Homo sapiens: one gene and its partners. The protein of the gene in region 3 purifies or fractionates together with the protein of the main gene of each other region. This does not show direct contact. Each region holds a gene or a part of one and is shown on either strand. Other genes may lie near its edges.

The links. Proteins that work in one complex are often made in the same cells at the same time.
Region 1: the proteins of FAM120A (region 3) and PAIP1 purify together in Homo sapiens (co-immunoprecipitation; 2 studies listed by BioGRID and IntAct, with this or other methods). This does not show direct contact.
Region 2: the proteins of FAM120A (region 3) and MRPL42 purify together in Homo sapiens (co-immunoprecipitation; 2 studies listed by BioGRID and IntAct, with this or other methods). This does not show direct contact.
Region 4: the proteins of FAM120A (region 3) and RPUSD4 purify together in Homo sapiens (co-immunoprecipitation; 2 studies listed by BioGRID and IntAct, with this or other methods). This does not show direct contact.

Annotation. Positions count from the first base shown.
Region 1 is NC_000005.10:43,547,078-43,550,577, reverse strand, and holds part of PAIP1 (polyadenylate-binding protein-interacting protein 1), read left to right. Parts: intron 1-2,664; coding exon 2,665-2,850; intron 2,851-3,500. UniProt on the Homo sapiens protein: Acts as a coactivator in the regulation of translation initiation of poly(A)-containing mRNAs. Its stimulatory activity on translation is mediated via its action on PABPC1. Competes with PAIP2 for binding to PABPC1.
Region 2 is NC_000012.12:93,512,514-93,516,714, reverse strand, and holds the end of MRPL42 (large ribosomal subunit protein mL42 precursor), read right to left. Parts: 3' UTR 501-4,201; downstream 1-500.
Region 3 is NC_000009.12:93,559,685-93,563,148, forward strand, and holds part of FAM120A (constitutive coactivator of PPAR-gamma-like protein 1), read left to right. Parts: intron 1-1,424; coding exon 1,425-1,566; intron 1,567-2,523; coding exon 2,524-2,620; intron 2,621-3,320; coding exon of another isoform or gene 3,321-3,335; exon of another isoform or gene 3,336-3,464. UniProt on the Homo sapiens protein: Component of the oxidative stress-induced survival signaling. May regulate the activation of SRC family protein kinases. May act as a scaffolding protein enabling SRC family protein kinases to phosphorylate and activate PI3-kinase.
Region 4 is NC_000011.10:126,205,151-126,208,650, forward strand, and holds part of RPUSD4 (pseudouridylate synthase RPUSD4, mitochondrial), read right to left. Parts: intron 632-3,500; coding exon 538-631; intron 463-537; coding exon 318-462; intron 1-317. UniProt on the Homo sapiens protein: Catalyzes uridine to pseudouridine isomerization (pseudouridylation) of different mitochondrial RNA substrates. Acts on position 1397 in 16S mitochondrial ribosomal RNA (16S mt-rRNA).

The DNA of each region.
Region 1 (3,500 bases), on a different chromosome or scaffold from region 3:
GATGCAGGCAAAGCCCTTATGGTGTCTATCACATATCATATATGCAGCTGGTGGCTATTAGCTTATTAACTGGAGTACCATCCTAGGTGCCAAGAAATACAGCTTTTTATCATTCATTTTGGATGCTTTTTATACTTTAGTCCCTTTATGTATGAATACATGGCTGTTGCATTTGGAATATGACTCAGTATTCTCCTAGAAATTTAAAATGTAATTCATTTGTTGAACATTCTGTGCTTTACTATGTGCTCTTCACCAATCTAGGTGAATTTGATTAATTCACTTAATCCTCAGAGTCACAGTGATAATATTTATGATTAGTAAATAAATGCATCAACATTAATACCTCCTATTATAGTAGAATGTTTAACTTGAATTCAAATGCGTGACAAAAATCTAATGTATTAGAGTTTATCCTTCTATTCAATGAACACTATATGTGAATGAAAAAGGCACATGAATCTGCTATTTCTGCAGCTGGTTTTACTTCCTGACTGCCTCTCATAGTACATGCAACTTTTGCTAAGTATCACTTCAGTCTCTGAAGATACATAGGCCGGGCATGGTGGCTCTCGCCTGTAATCCCAGCGCTTTGGGAGGCCGAGTTGGGTGGATCATTTGAGGTCAGGAGTTTGAGACCATCCTGATCAACATGGTGAAACCCCATCTCCTCTAAAAATACAAAAAAAATTAGCTGGGCCTGGTGGTACATGCCTGTAGTCCCAGCTACTCTGGGAGGCTGAGGCAGGAGAATTGCTTGAACCTGGGAGGCAGAGGTTGCAGTGAGCCAAGATCTTGCCACTGTACTCCAGCCTGGGTGACAGAGCGAGACTCCATCTCAAAAATAAAAATAAAAAATAAAGATAAAATAAAAAGTGTAAAACATGACCTCCAAATGATGGTTATTTGAAGTGGTAGCACTATAGTGGTCCATTTTCATGCTGCTGACAAAGACATACCCGAGACTGGGAAGAAAAAGAGATTTAATTGGACTTACAGTTCCACAAGGCTGGGAAAGCCTCAGAATCATGGCGGGAGGTGAAAGGCACATCTTACGTGGCCGCAGCAAGAGAAAAATGAGGAAGAAGCAAAAGCGGAAACCCCTGATAAACCCATCAGATCTCGTGAGACGTATTCACTATGACAAGAATAGCACCGGAAAGACTGGCCCCATTGATTCAGTTACCTCCCTCCTGGGTCCCTCCCACAACACATGGGAATTCTGGGAGATACAATTCAAGTTGAGATTTAGGTGGGGACACAGCCAAACCATATCAAGCACCAACAGTAAAGGGACAAGTGGACAATTGGCAATGTTGGTCTTTCTCCTAAGACTGTGTCCTGGGCCAGGCGCAGTGGCCTGTAATCCCAGCACTTTGGGAGGCCAAGGTGGGGGAATCACCTGAAGTCAGAGTTTGAGACCAGCCTGGCCAACATGGTGAAACCCTGTCTCTACTAAAAATACAAAAATTAGCCAGGCATGGTGGTGCATGCCTGTAATCCCAGCTACTTGAGAGGCTGAGGTACAGGAATAGCTTGAACCCGGGAGGCGGAGGTTGCAGTGAGCCAAGATTGCACCACTGCACTCCAGCCTGGGCGACAGAACAAGACTGTCTCAAAGAAAAAAAAAGACTGTCTTTCTCCAACATGGAGCATTTCTAAGGGTGTTTTGACCATGTATGACTTTTTTTTTCTTCTATGCACTCACTGACTTTAGAACTTAACCCCTTCACAAAATGCTTCTGTTTTGTAGTCATAACTTTTTTATGTGGCTTTTCATTTACTCTGTTTGGAGAAGGTTAAATTTCATACAAGCAGTGTAGTTATTATTAGATTTTAACTGTTTGGTAAACTTTAAAGCGCTTCGGGTGGTATTCCAGGCATTGAGATGTGAAAGTTGTTGCTCAAGTCTATTATCTTTTGTAAAACTCGCCCACTCAGCCTTCTGCCATTAATGAAAAGGTTGGAAACTGCCAAAGGTGACAGTGGTGGAAACAACATTAGCTGGAAACTACTGCTGCTATCAAGGTTGTGTTAGCAACCTGGATGTAGCAGCCAAAAGGTCTCCTTCCATTTATACCGTGATGAAATTTTAGTTACTCGAGCAGCTTTATGCATTTCTTTGCCCTTGGGGATTAACAGATGATAAACCTTATTAGGTTTTTGTTTTTGTTTTTTTTTTCCCCAATAAAAAAGTTGTCAACATTTGCAGAAATACAGAGAATGGTATAATGAATCCTCATGGCCTCAACAGTAAGCTACATGTGGCCGTTCTTGTTTTTATATCCCTAGTCCATACTTCCCCTCCCACTTTGAAGCAAATCCTAGATCTTATTTCATTCGTAAGTGGATCAGATTCTTAATTTTTATATTGGCATTGTAGTGAAATATTGGTTTAAACTTTATTCCTCAGCCATCTTAGAAGTTGACCCAGAATGAGAAGACAATTCCCTGTTTAGCTGAACAGAACCTTTCTGCTGTTAATTATAACACTTCAGCTTTTAGGCAAGGAAGAAAAATAGCTCAATTGACAATTTTATTGATGAACATAAATTTTTATCATGTGAGGGATCTTTAAAAAAGCATTTGTGCTAGAGACATACCACCTTGTGTGTTTTAGCCAGTTGCATAGATTAAAATTGTTTTTTCATTTTTGATCCGTAGGAATCCTATGAGGATGGTTGTGAGGATTATCCTACTCTATCAGAATATGTTCAGGATTTTTTGAATCATCTTACAGAGCAGCCTGGCAGTTTTGAAACTGAAATTGAACAGTTTGCAGAGACCCTGAATGGTTGTGTTACAACAGATGATGCTTTGCAAGAACTTGTGGAACTCATCTATCAACAGGTATGTTGGCTTATAGCATGCAGTGACCTTCAGATAGCTTCCTTGAAGCCCAAGGATAGTGGCTACTCCTTGAGGGAGACCAGATTCATGATCACCTGCCTCCACACTTACTCTTTATAGTTTCCGGGAGTTCTAAGTCTGTCTTGTATAAAACTCCTATAGTTAGGGATCCAAGGGTAGAGCCAGACAGGATTGCAAGTTCACATGTGTAGTCAAGATTCAATATAGGTAATATTCACCTGTTTAGCCAAAGCTCTATACAAGCAGTATAGTATAGAAGGTGATATGGGCACTGAAAACGAAGGCTACATAAGTGTCACCCCCACCAAAACCCTGCCCCTTGTTTTGCAGGCTCTGAAATTAGCAGTACCAGAAAAGACTGCAATTCTTTTCCCCTATGTGTTGAATTGAATAGTAGTATTAGAGTAGGGGAGGAAAAAAATTGAGAGAATTTGCTTGCCTCATAAGTAGGTCTTTAAAAAAAAGAAAGCCAAACCATAAAATGTCTTGTCTTAGCATTTCTACTTGCCTTTGCTTTCTTTTAAAATTTAAGGATTTCATCTTAATTCCTTGAAAGTCTAATTTAGTCAGTTGAAATTGTTTCATTATACAACATTTAGTTTTTATCCCAGCATATTGGTCATTAACAT
Region 2 (4,201 bases), on a different chromosome or scaffold from region 3:
AAACACAAAAATTAGCGAGGTGTGGTGGTATGTACCTGTAGTCCCAGCTACTTGGGAGGCTGAGGTAGGAGGATTTCTTGGGCCCAGGAGGTCAAGGCTGCAGTGAGGCCAGATTGAGCCACTGCACTCCAGCCTGAGCAAGAGTGAGATCCTGCCTTAAAAAAAAAAAAGCTCTCAAATATGTACATTTCTGAGTATATTATGTGTAGCTACAGGTAGGTAGGTAGGTACATGGATGACTGATAGATAGATTCAGCACAGACATCTCTCTTGAGCTCCAGAGTCATAAATCCATCCAATTACTTCTTGGATATCTCCACTTGGAGTAACCTACTAATATCTCAAAGGTAACCTGTTAAAAACTGAAGACATTTTCTTCTTCTCCAGTATTCTTTATTTCTATTACTGGCACTACTCACACCTGACTGTCCAAGCAAGAAACTCTGAAATTATTCTTAACATCAATGCTCTTTAACCAGAGACCACCAGGAACACACCTCTAGTTAAACAAGTTGAGTTTATTACTCATTGCAGCAAAGAAGAACACACAACATAGGGAACCATGGGGTGTCTCAGTATGAGAGTGTTTAGAAGAACCTAGTATAGAATTTGGGATTGGGAGAGGGTCTAAGGAAACGGGTTTGCTCCAGATTGGATACTATCAGAAAGAAGGAGAATTTCATGATTATCTCAATACATCTTCTCTATAGGGAAGGCAGACTAGAGCTGGGACAAAGCTGTCACTGGTAAAGTAGCAGTTGCTCATTTTAGCTGAGAGAGGGTGATTTTTGGTATTTTCTGGATGGCACCATGACCCTCTTTTTGCCTGTGCTTAGACAAAATTACAAAGTGGACTTGTTTTTTCTCACTTTATTAAGGTTTCAGAGTCATCTTGTTTAATGTTGGTATTCTGTGAGACTTATGCCCAATAGGAAAATAACATAGCCTAGCTGTGAATGCCAAGTCAGCTTTCAGATGTCAAGAGCAGCTTTTCTCCCCGCTTTTTCATTAATCACTCTCTGCCATTCCGTGTAAATTAGTTGCCAACCCAGGTGCAGTGGCTGATGTCTGTAATCCCAGCCCTTTGGGAGGCCGACGCGGGCGAATCACTTGAGGTCAGGAGCTCGAGACCAGCCTGGCCAGAATGGCGAAACTCCATCTATACTAAAAATACAAAAATTACCTGGGAATGGTGATGCACACCTGTAGTCCCAGCTACTCAGGAGGTTGAGGCACGAAAATTGCTTGAATCCAGGAGGCAGAGGTTGCAGTGAGCCGAGATCACCCCACTGCACTCCAGCCTGGGCAACACAGCAAGTCTCTGTCTCAAAAAAAAAAAAAAAAAATAGTTGCCAAGGCCTATTAATTTTTACTTCCTATGTATCTCTGGCATTTCTTGGTCCCCTCTTCTCCTTCCTTAATCCAGGCCATTATCATTTGTCAGCTGAATGACTCCATCAGTCACTTAACGGTGTGCCCAGGAGTCCATCGTGCTTCCGTTCCAGCCCATCCTCCATGGTCTCCCTGTAGCCAGAGTGAAGGCTCTGAATGCATCATCCCCTGCCAAAAATCTTCTTTGGTTACATTACCAGCTGTTACTAACATTTAAATGGTAAAATTAAAAATCAGTGAGGTTAGCAATGAAAATAAACTTTTTTCTTTTCTCCCGAAAAGGAATCAAGAAGGGTGGAGAGTGTATCTGCAGAAGGAATCAGCTGAGTTTGGAGACTATTTTGATATCCTGATTCCCTCTTAAGAAATGATGACTCAATGCAAATCAAGAGGATGACATGACTGCTAAAAAATGTAATGCATTATTGGCACCATTCGTAAAAGTATACTGTCCACAGTAAAAAAAAATATGTTGTCCTGGGTAATACATTTTAAGAAATATATCATTAAAAGCATGTGTCTAAAGGAGGACAATCAGGATAAGGGAGAGTTCTGGAAACATGTCATATGGATAATAAGAAAAAATAAAGCTTAAAGAAAAATAAGAAGGAATATGACAAATATTTTCAAATAGGAGTAAATTTATTTCATATAGATTCAGGGGGAGAATCAAGTCTGAGGATTATAAACCATAAGCAGACTGATTTCCACTCAATATAAGGAAACACTTTCCATTAAAACTGTCCAATAATGGCCAGGTGCAGTGGCTCATGCCTGTAATGTCAGCACTTTGGGAGGCCAAGGCAGCCAGATCACCTGAGGTCGGGAGTTCAAGACCAGCCTGGTCAACATGGTGAAACCCTGTCTCTACCAAAAAAAAAAATTAGCCAGGTGTGGTGGTGGGTGCCTGTAATCCCAGCTACTCAGGAGGCTGAGGCACAAGAATCGCTTGAGCTTGGGAGGTGGAGGTTGCAATGAACCGAGATTGACAGAGGAGACGCCATCTCAAAAAAAAAAAAAAAAAAAAGAAAGAAAGAAAGAAAAAGCAGAGGGAGAAAACTGTCCAATCATTATTGGAGTTAGGTCCATGGAAACGTAGTGAACTCCTAGTTACTAAAAGAATTCAAGAGAAAGCTGAATAATATTCCAGAAAGTACACTATAAAACAGGAGTTGGCTGGGCATGGTGGCTCACGCCTGTAATCCTAGCACTTTGGGAGGCCGAGGCAGGCAGATCATGAGGTCAGGAGTTCAAGACCAGCCTGACCAACATGGTGAAACCCCGTCTCTACTAAAAATACAAAAATTAGCCGGGTGTGGTGGTGGGCACCTGTAGTCCCAGCTACTCGGAAGGCTGAGGCAGGAGACTTGCTTGAACCTGGGAGACGGAGGTTGCAGTGAGCCAAGATCACACCACTGCACTCCAGCTGGGGTGACAGAGCAAGACTCGGTCTAAAAAAAAACAGGAGTCATTGAACTATCTGTGATGAAAGGATAGTTCTTTAATCCATTGTGGTCTAGTACTTTTATAAATTATAAAATGAAATTAGTAGAATGAAAAACATTTTTTAAAAGCCCCAATTTTTAATTATGTTAATGGATATAAAATTAAATTTCAATAAATAGAATTGGAACACACATAAAACGGAAAGAGAAAAAATTATTTAAAAACTTTCACTGAAAATGTGAATTTAAGATTAATATAATTTCTATAACTCAACTTTTTGTCATTCTTCAATTATAACTGAAGATTATAATTGAAGTAGTGATTCTGTTTATTAGACCATTAGATATACTTTGAATAAACACAATGCATATTAATATTCAAAAGTTTTTAGGTCAAGCAAGGTGGCTCACACCTGTCATCTCAACACTTGTGGGGGCCGAGATGGGAGGATCACTTGAGACCAGGAGTTTGATACCAACCTGGGTAACACAAGGAGACTTGGTCTCTACAAAAAATAAATTTGCCAGGCGTGATGGCAGACACCTGAAGCTCCAGCTGCAGGCTGAGGTGAGAGGATTGCTTGAGCCCAGAAGTTCAAGGTTACAGTGAGCTACGATTGCACCACTGCACTCCAGCCTGGGCAATAAAATGAATGAGACCCTCTCTCTCAAAAAAAAAAAAAAAAAAAAAAAATTCTAAATGTCACAAATGAGCTGGTTTCTTTCTCGTTAAAATATGTAATCCAGGGTAGATTGACAATACTACTACTTTCATGGATTGATGTATATCTAAACTGTTTCCATGGTTTTTAAAAAATATTATTCATAAGATGAAACCAGATTTACAAAGGGATAATGGTCGGAATGGGAAAAAAAAGTTTTTAAACTAATTTCAGCATACTCAGAATATTCACTTTTAACTTTTATCCAAAATGAAGCAAGTGGTGTGGTATTTTCAAAATTCATTTTTAATCCTTCATTAGTTGCCAGTTAGAACAATGTATCATATAAGCTTACAATTAAATTTAAATCCTCTTTTGATGACATAAATGGATTCCAGATCTATGAATTTGCCGTATGTAGACATTCTTTTGTTGGAAAATAAAACTTAAAGCATTCTATCAAATTCACAATAGTTTGATTACTTCTTACAGATGTGCAATATCAAGACAATCACCAACTTCAATGACAATTGTTAAATTATGGAACATGTAATAACAATCTGTAGCAACTCTGGTCTTTCAAGCTTCTACCTTTTGCTTTTGCTCTTTGATTTTATCTGCCATTAAAAAACAAGTTGCATTCCTGCCTTGTATGAAAGAATTCTGAAGCTATCAGAACTGTCTTCAGATAATTGAAGATAG
Region 3 (3,464 bases):
TGCTTCTTGATTTGCTTCAGCTCCTTCTAGTGCCTTGAAACTGAAGCTGGCCTGTAGTTGGGATCAAAGATGGAGGGAGAGGGGAGATTGTACTATGGATAGTGTAGGGCAAGAAGTGAATTCTTACACTGGAATGATAAAAGGAACCTGCTTCCTGAGTTTCTTAAAATTGTGTCTGGAACTCAGATTTGCACTGCCTAGTATAGTAGCTGCTGGCCACTGCTCTGTTGAGCACTTAAGCTCTGGCTAGAACATGTAAAATACATATCAGATTTTAAAACTTAAAATGGGAAGCAGACTAAAATAGCTAATCAATTTTTTATCTTGGGCCAGGCACAGTGGCTCATGCCTATAATCTCAGCATTTTGGGAGGCCAAGGAGAGAGAATTGCTTGAGGCAGGAGTTCAAGACCAGCCTGGGCAATATAGTGAGACCCCTGCCTCTACAAAAAATTTTAAAAATTAGCCAGGTATGGTGGTGCACACCTGTAGTCCCAGCTACTCAGGAGGCTGAGGCGGGAGGATCGCTAGAGCTGGGAGGTCAAGGCTGCAGTGAGCCGTGATTGTGCCACTGCACTCCAGCCTGGGTGACAGAGCGAGACCCTGTCTTAAAAAAAAAAAAATCTTGACTACATGTTGAAATAGTATTATTTTGGATACATTGAGTTAAATAAATACATTTTTAAAACTTCTTTCCTCTGTTTCTTTGTACATTTTTCATGTGGCTACAAAAAAATATAAGCTTGTTGTAGGTTTCTGTTGGACAGTGCTGAATTGCCACAGCTAACACCAAGATGATAGTTGTTTATTATCCATTCTCACTGTCAGAAAACAAGATGCTTGGGGCTCTGGTTTTGTTTGCTTATTTTTTTGTTTTTAAACAGAAGTTTTGCTGCCAATTAGCAATTAGAGAATTTTCTTAGGTCAGAAAACTTACAATTTGCAGTAATCAAAAGAAGTTAGTAAATTCTATTTGTGACTCTGCTTATGGAAATTCTAATTTAAAAACACAGTAAGAAATACAGGCTAGATTTATTGATTCTATGATGTTCAGTTAAGGTAGTAAACCTAGAAGTATTCGCCTAAAGAGAAAAACATTCTTGAGTTTGCAGATTGCCATCTTGGTAATATAGAAGGCATGCCATATGCACCTGATGACACTTTATTGTATCTGTTTCTATCTAAAAAGCCTTGCACATTTGCAGTTGTAACCTAATTCAGTTCTCATGGGTTCTTCACAGTAGTTTAAAGTCAAACAGTGTGCACATAGATACACTACATAATAAAAAATTGTACAAAACAGGAGAAAGTAGCTTCATAGTAAATATAAACCAAAACTGAAAAGAAGTTTCTTGCTTGTATCTTTTTGCTATTCTTAATTCTGTGATTGTAAAGATTTTGTCTTTTTGTATATTTTTTATGCAGGAGTCCAACCTATACCTTCTCAGGGAGGCAAACTAGAAATAGCTGGCACTGTGGTTGGCCATTGGGCTGGGAGCAGGCGGGGCCGTGGGGGCCGGGGGCCTTTCCCCCTGCAGGTGGTTTCTGTCGGAGGACCAGCTAGAGGGTAAGTTCTGAGCCACGAAAATGTCTTTTGTATAAGTAAAGAAAACAGCTTCTAACTTGCTTTTTTTTGGAAGTTTAAGTAGGAACATTTTTATATCATTAGATACATTCTTCTTTAATATCATTTGTATTTAATTATTTAGTTTTTATTTATTTATTTATCTTAAGATGGGGTCTCACTGTCACCCAGGCTAGAGTGCAGTGGCACAATCACAGTTCAGTGTAGCCTTGACTTTCTGGGCTCCATCGATCCTCCCACTTCAGCCTCCTGAGTAGCTGGGACCACAGTCATGTGCCACCATGCCTGGCTAATTTTTGTATTTTTGGTAGTGACAGGGTTTCGCCATGTTGCCCAGGTTGGTCTTGAACTCCTGAGCTCAACCAATCCACCCACCTCGGCCTTGCAAAGTGCTGGGATTACAGGTGTGAGCCACTGCACACAGCCTTTAACATCATTTATAATGTTTGCATAGGATCCCATTTATAGTATTATGTAATTATTTAATTAACCATTAAATAATTAACAATTATTAAATAATTAACCATACAATTTTCAATTAACCAGGTGCCTTAATATTTTTAAAGTATTAGTTTTCAAATCAAATGCATTGGATATGGGAGATGTAGCTCAGGGGTAGAGCATTTGACTGCAAATGCATTGGATATGAACCAAAAAAATAAGATTGATTCCTTGGAATAAATCTTCCCTATGATCATACTTAACCTGTTTACGCCTAGTGTTCCATTATTGGAACGCAAAGCATGTGGGAGTTCTTTATGTCCTACTGCTCAAGGTCTGACTGCAAAAATTCAACAAATTGCAACTTCCGGCATAAATGGGTTAATTCAGTGCTTCATAAAACGTAAGATTGGATGGCTTTAAAATCATTTGATACTATTTTAAATGTTGTCTGTAACAGATTTAAGTGTTTACTGTTGTCCTTTTTCATTCATTTAGGCGTCCAAGAGGAGTTATTTCCACCCCAGTGATTAGAACATTTGGAAGAGGTGGAAGGTACTATGGCAGAGGTTACAAAAACCAGGCAGCAATTCAGGTAAGAAGACAACATGATGTTTGTGCCAGTTCAATGCCCTCAGGGATGTCTCCTGTCTGAGCTTGCACTTCTAGTACCTGCGCTCAGACAGAAGAGCTGTGAGGGTAATGCTTTAGCTGTCAAGTGTCTAACACAGTAACTGGCACACAGCTGCTCACCAAATGTCCATTCCCTAGAGCCCAGATCATTTTGCTGTTAAGTGCCTCTTCAGGTTGTCTCTCCCCTTTGCCATGACCCTGTGTCTCTGGTAGCTTCCCGCCTGGTGTGACACGATGGGCTTGGCTTACCTTGGGCATTGCCTAGCCCTGACAGAGCTGGAACAGCCACTTGTAGTTTCTTTTTTTTTCTTTCTTTCTTTTTCTTTTTTTTTTTTTTTTTGAGATGGAGTCTCGCTCTATTGCCCAGGCTGGAGTGCCGTGGCACAATCTCCGCTCACTGCAACCTCCACTTCCCGGGTTCAAGCGATTCGCTTGCGTCAGCCTCCCGAATAGCTGGGATTACAGGTGTGTGCCACGACACTCGGCTAATTTTTGTAGTTTTAGTAGAGTTGCAGTTTCACCATGTTGGCCAGGCTGGTCTCAAACTCCTGACCTCAGGTGATCCGCCCGCCTTGGCCTCCCAAAGTGCTAGAATTACAGGCGTGAGCCACCATGCCCAGCGGTCCTGCTATATTTTTATGTTTTATATTATTTGTCTCAAGGTTCAAAGAAAATGACGATTGCATTGATTCATGGAGAAGGGTGCGTTAATATTTCTGAACTTTAGGGTTGGAAGGTAAAATAGAGGATGTTGTAGGAGAGTATGTGGGGACCCTTGGTTTATGGGGGCCATTCCTTAGGCAAGG
Region 4 (3,500 bases), on a different chromosome or scaffold from region 3:
TAACGCTGCTATGAATATGTGTGCAAATATTTGATTTTTGGGGTATATACCCAGAAGTGGAACTGCTGGATCTTACAATAATTCTGTTTAATCGTTTTGAGGAACCACTCTACACAGTTTTAAATAGAGGCATTCAACCTGTTTGTATTCTTCTGCTAGCCACAACCATCTCTCTGGGAGTCCCCGGCCTCAGATCAGCACCAGAAGCACATTCTCACACAAGTCAGCCACACTACTAGCTGCTCAGAACGAGGCCCTGGACAAAACCTGGTGGCACAGGGTTTTGTGATCCCACTGCGGAAAAGTGACACTCTCACCAGTGATGGGCTGGAGCTCCACGAGGGCGGAGGAGAGAGTGCTGCTGAGCACCTGGTACTGAGTTACAGCAACTTGCGCATTCCGGCTGCGCCGCACTTTCACCATTTTCCCATCGTCCATGCGGTAGCTCGGGGACAATGTCATCTGAAGCCAAAGAAATCAAGATATGATTCCCAAGGAAGAGCAGCAACCCATGCCTCAGGGAGGCTGCTCGCTCACCTTGTGGTGTTGCTGCTGGCCTTGCGCCTCCTTCTCCACAATGGGGATGTCCACGACTCCTGCTGAGGGCATGGGGACATGCACAGTGATGGCCCTGGGGGTGACACAGATCACTGCTTTAGCCAACCAAGCCAGAGAAGAACTCCTAGATTTGGCCACTTAGAGGATTTCACGCTGGACCTTCTGCACTAACATGTGATTTCTTATGATTGAAGGATCGTGCAAGATTCTCTTGGTGTAATGCTTAGCCTGAGAGCTGATAGATTTCACAAGCTTATCTTTTTTACTACTAAAGTCATACATGCTAATTGTAGAATATTTGGGGTAAAAAAAGAAAAAAATTACATTAATAACATGGTCTTTCCAGTCTTTAAAAATGGATATGTACAGTTAAAATAAAATTATGGTAATATAGTTTTGTATTTTTTTTCAAATAATAAAAGATTGTAGATTCTGACTGCATGGTAAATGAACAAATGAATAATTGGATGAATGAACCTAATAAAACATTCAGAGAACCGTTCCTGGCTCATTTGCCACATAGGTAAAACAGGAGGGAACTGTACCCGAAGAAGTCACAGGGGACAGGCGTGGTGGCTCACACATGTAATCCCAATACTTTGGGAGGCCAAGGCGGGTGGATCACTTCAGGTCAGGAGTTCAAGACCAGCCTGGCCAACATGGTGAAACCCCATCTCTACTAAAAATACAAAAAAAAAATCAGCCAGGCGTGGTGGCGCGTGCCTGTAATTCCAGCTACTTGGGAGGCTGAGGCATGAGAATCGCTTGAATCCAGGAGGTGGAGGTTGCAGTGGGCCAAGATTATGCCACTGCACTCCAGCCTGGGAGACACAGCAAGACTCCGTCTAAAAAAAGAAAGAAAGAAGTCATAGGTACCACAACCACAACTCAATAACTCATTCCAAATCACTTCTGTTGGTGTTCTCCCTCCCATGACCTCATGACCTCACAGACAGGTAGAAGACTGTTTAATCTGTCTGTAAATTTATGCCTCTTTCAGGTCAATGATGGAAAAGTCCATCTGGGTACCTGGTGGTCGGTTGTATAATCACTAACCACGGGGTCAAAATCCTACTCACACACACTATTTCACAACGCAGACACTCCACTTCAGTTTCAGCTACTATCTGGTACATTTTATCGTATTTTACAGATTTTGTAGATCTTCTGTGACAAGAATGTCCTTCCTAATGATATGACACTACAACTCAAGAATGTTCCATCAGCAAGACCCAACTGATTGATTTCAATTCCTCCATGAACCTGATACCGAGAATGGTTACCAATTTTGAACCTTAATGGACATTTTTCACAAATAACATAACATGTATTTTATAGTCTTAATATTTTGATTGCTTGAATAGAAAAATAAGTCTCTATTTTTTATTTTTTAACTTTTCCTATGAACTAGGTACTGTGTTAAACATTTCACAAGAATCAATCTTATTTAACTATCTCATAAATCCTACTGTTTCCATTTTTCAGATGAAGAAAACAAAGCTTATGGACATTTAATAACCTGCCCAAGGCCCCACAGCTGTTAAATGACACAGTTGAGAGTTGAACACACATCTTTTTGAGGTCTTAGCTACTGTCCTAAATTCCTCCATTCTCCATAATCTTATCATAGTTCTTAAATTTGATTGTATATCAAATTTTAAAATACAGATGCCAATCCCCACAACCACCACACTTACGAATGAGAACTTCTGTGGGTAAGTCTCAATCATACATATTTTTAAAGGGCTCCTCAGATTCACAAAGTATCTGCAAAATCTGTAATCTAAAAAGGACTAACATTCAAAATATAAAATGAATACTTACAAATCAAATAGAAAAGAATAAACAACCTGGGCCAGACACAGTGGCTCACGCCTGTGAGCTGTAAGCGCTGTAATCCTAGCACTTTGATGGACAGATCACTTTAGGTCAGGGGTTCAAGACCAGCCTGGCCAACAGGCTGAAACCCCATCTCTACTAAAAATACAAAAATTAGCTGGGCATGGTGGCATGTGCCTGTAATTCCAGCTAGCTGAAACATGAGAACCACTTGAACCAGGGAGGAGGTTGCAGTGAGCCAAGATTGTGCCACTGCCCTCCAGCCTGGGTGACACAGCAAGACTCCATCTCAAAAAAAAAAGGCCAGGCACGGTCTTAAATAAAAAAAAATAATAATAATAAACAACCCTGTAGAAAAATAGGCAAAAGAAATAATCAGTCTGTTCCCAAAAGGGAAACTCAAATAGCCAATAAACATGTAAAAAACATGTAAATTGATAGCCAATATCACTGTTATACAAGGAAATAGAAAATATCTTTTTTTTTTTTAACTTATCACAGTGGCAAACCCTTTAAAAATGCTTTGGCTGATAAGGGGAGGTGGGTACTCACCACTGCTGGTGGGAATGTAAACTGATAAAAAACCTTTGTGGAGAGCAATGTGAGTACTATTAAAATTTAAATATACAAACCATTCAGCCCAGCGATTCAATTTTTAGAAATTTATCTTAAAAATACATTCACATATTCTTTGCAATAGGCTCTAAAAAATGAGAAATTACCTAAATATCCATCCATACAGCGGTATTTCACAGAGCAATTAAAAAGGAGACAGCTCTAAACGTATGACACAAAATGCTCTAAGATATATGATCCAAGTGAAAACTGTAGGGTACAAAACTCTGTGTGAAATACACTAGCATACAGTAATATGCTTATATATGCTCGATAACTCTGGAAGTTTACAGAAGACACCAGTCACAGCGATTGACGCTGGGGAAGGCAACTGCACAGATGGGGAATAGAGGGTTTCTTTTTTGCTCACGCATCTTTTTTCTATGAAAAACACTGAGGTAAACCTCTATGTGCTAACACAGGATGATCCCCAAGACATAGAGGTGAGCAGAGGAAAAAAGTATAATGTAAATTGTACAATGTGATAT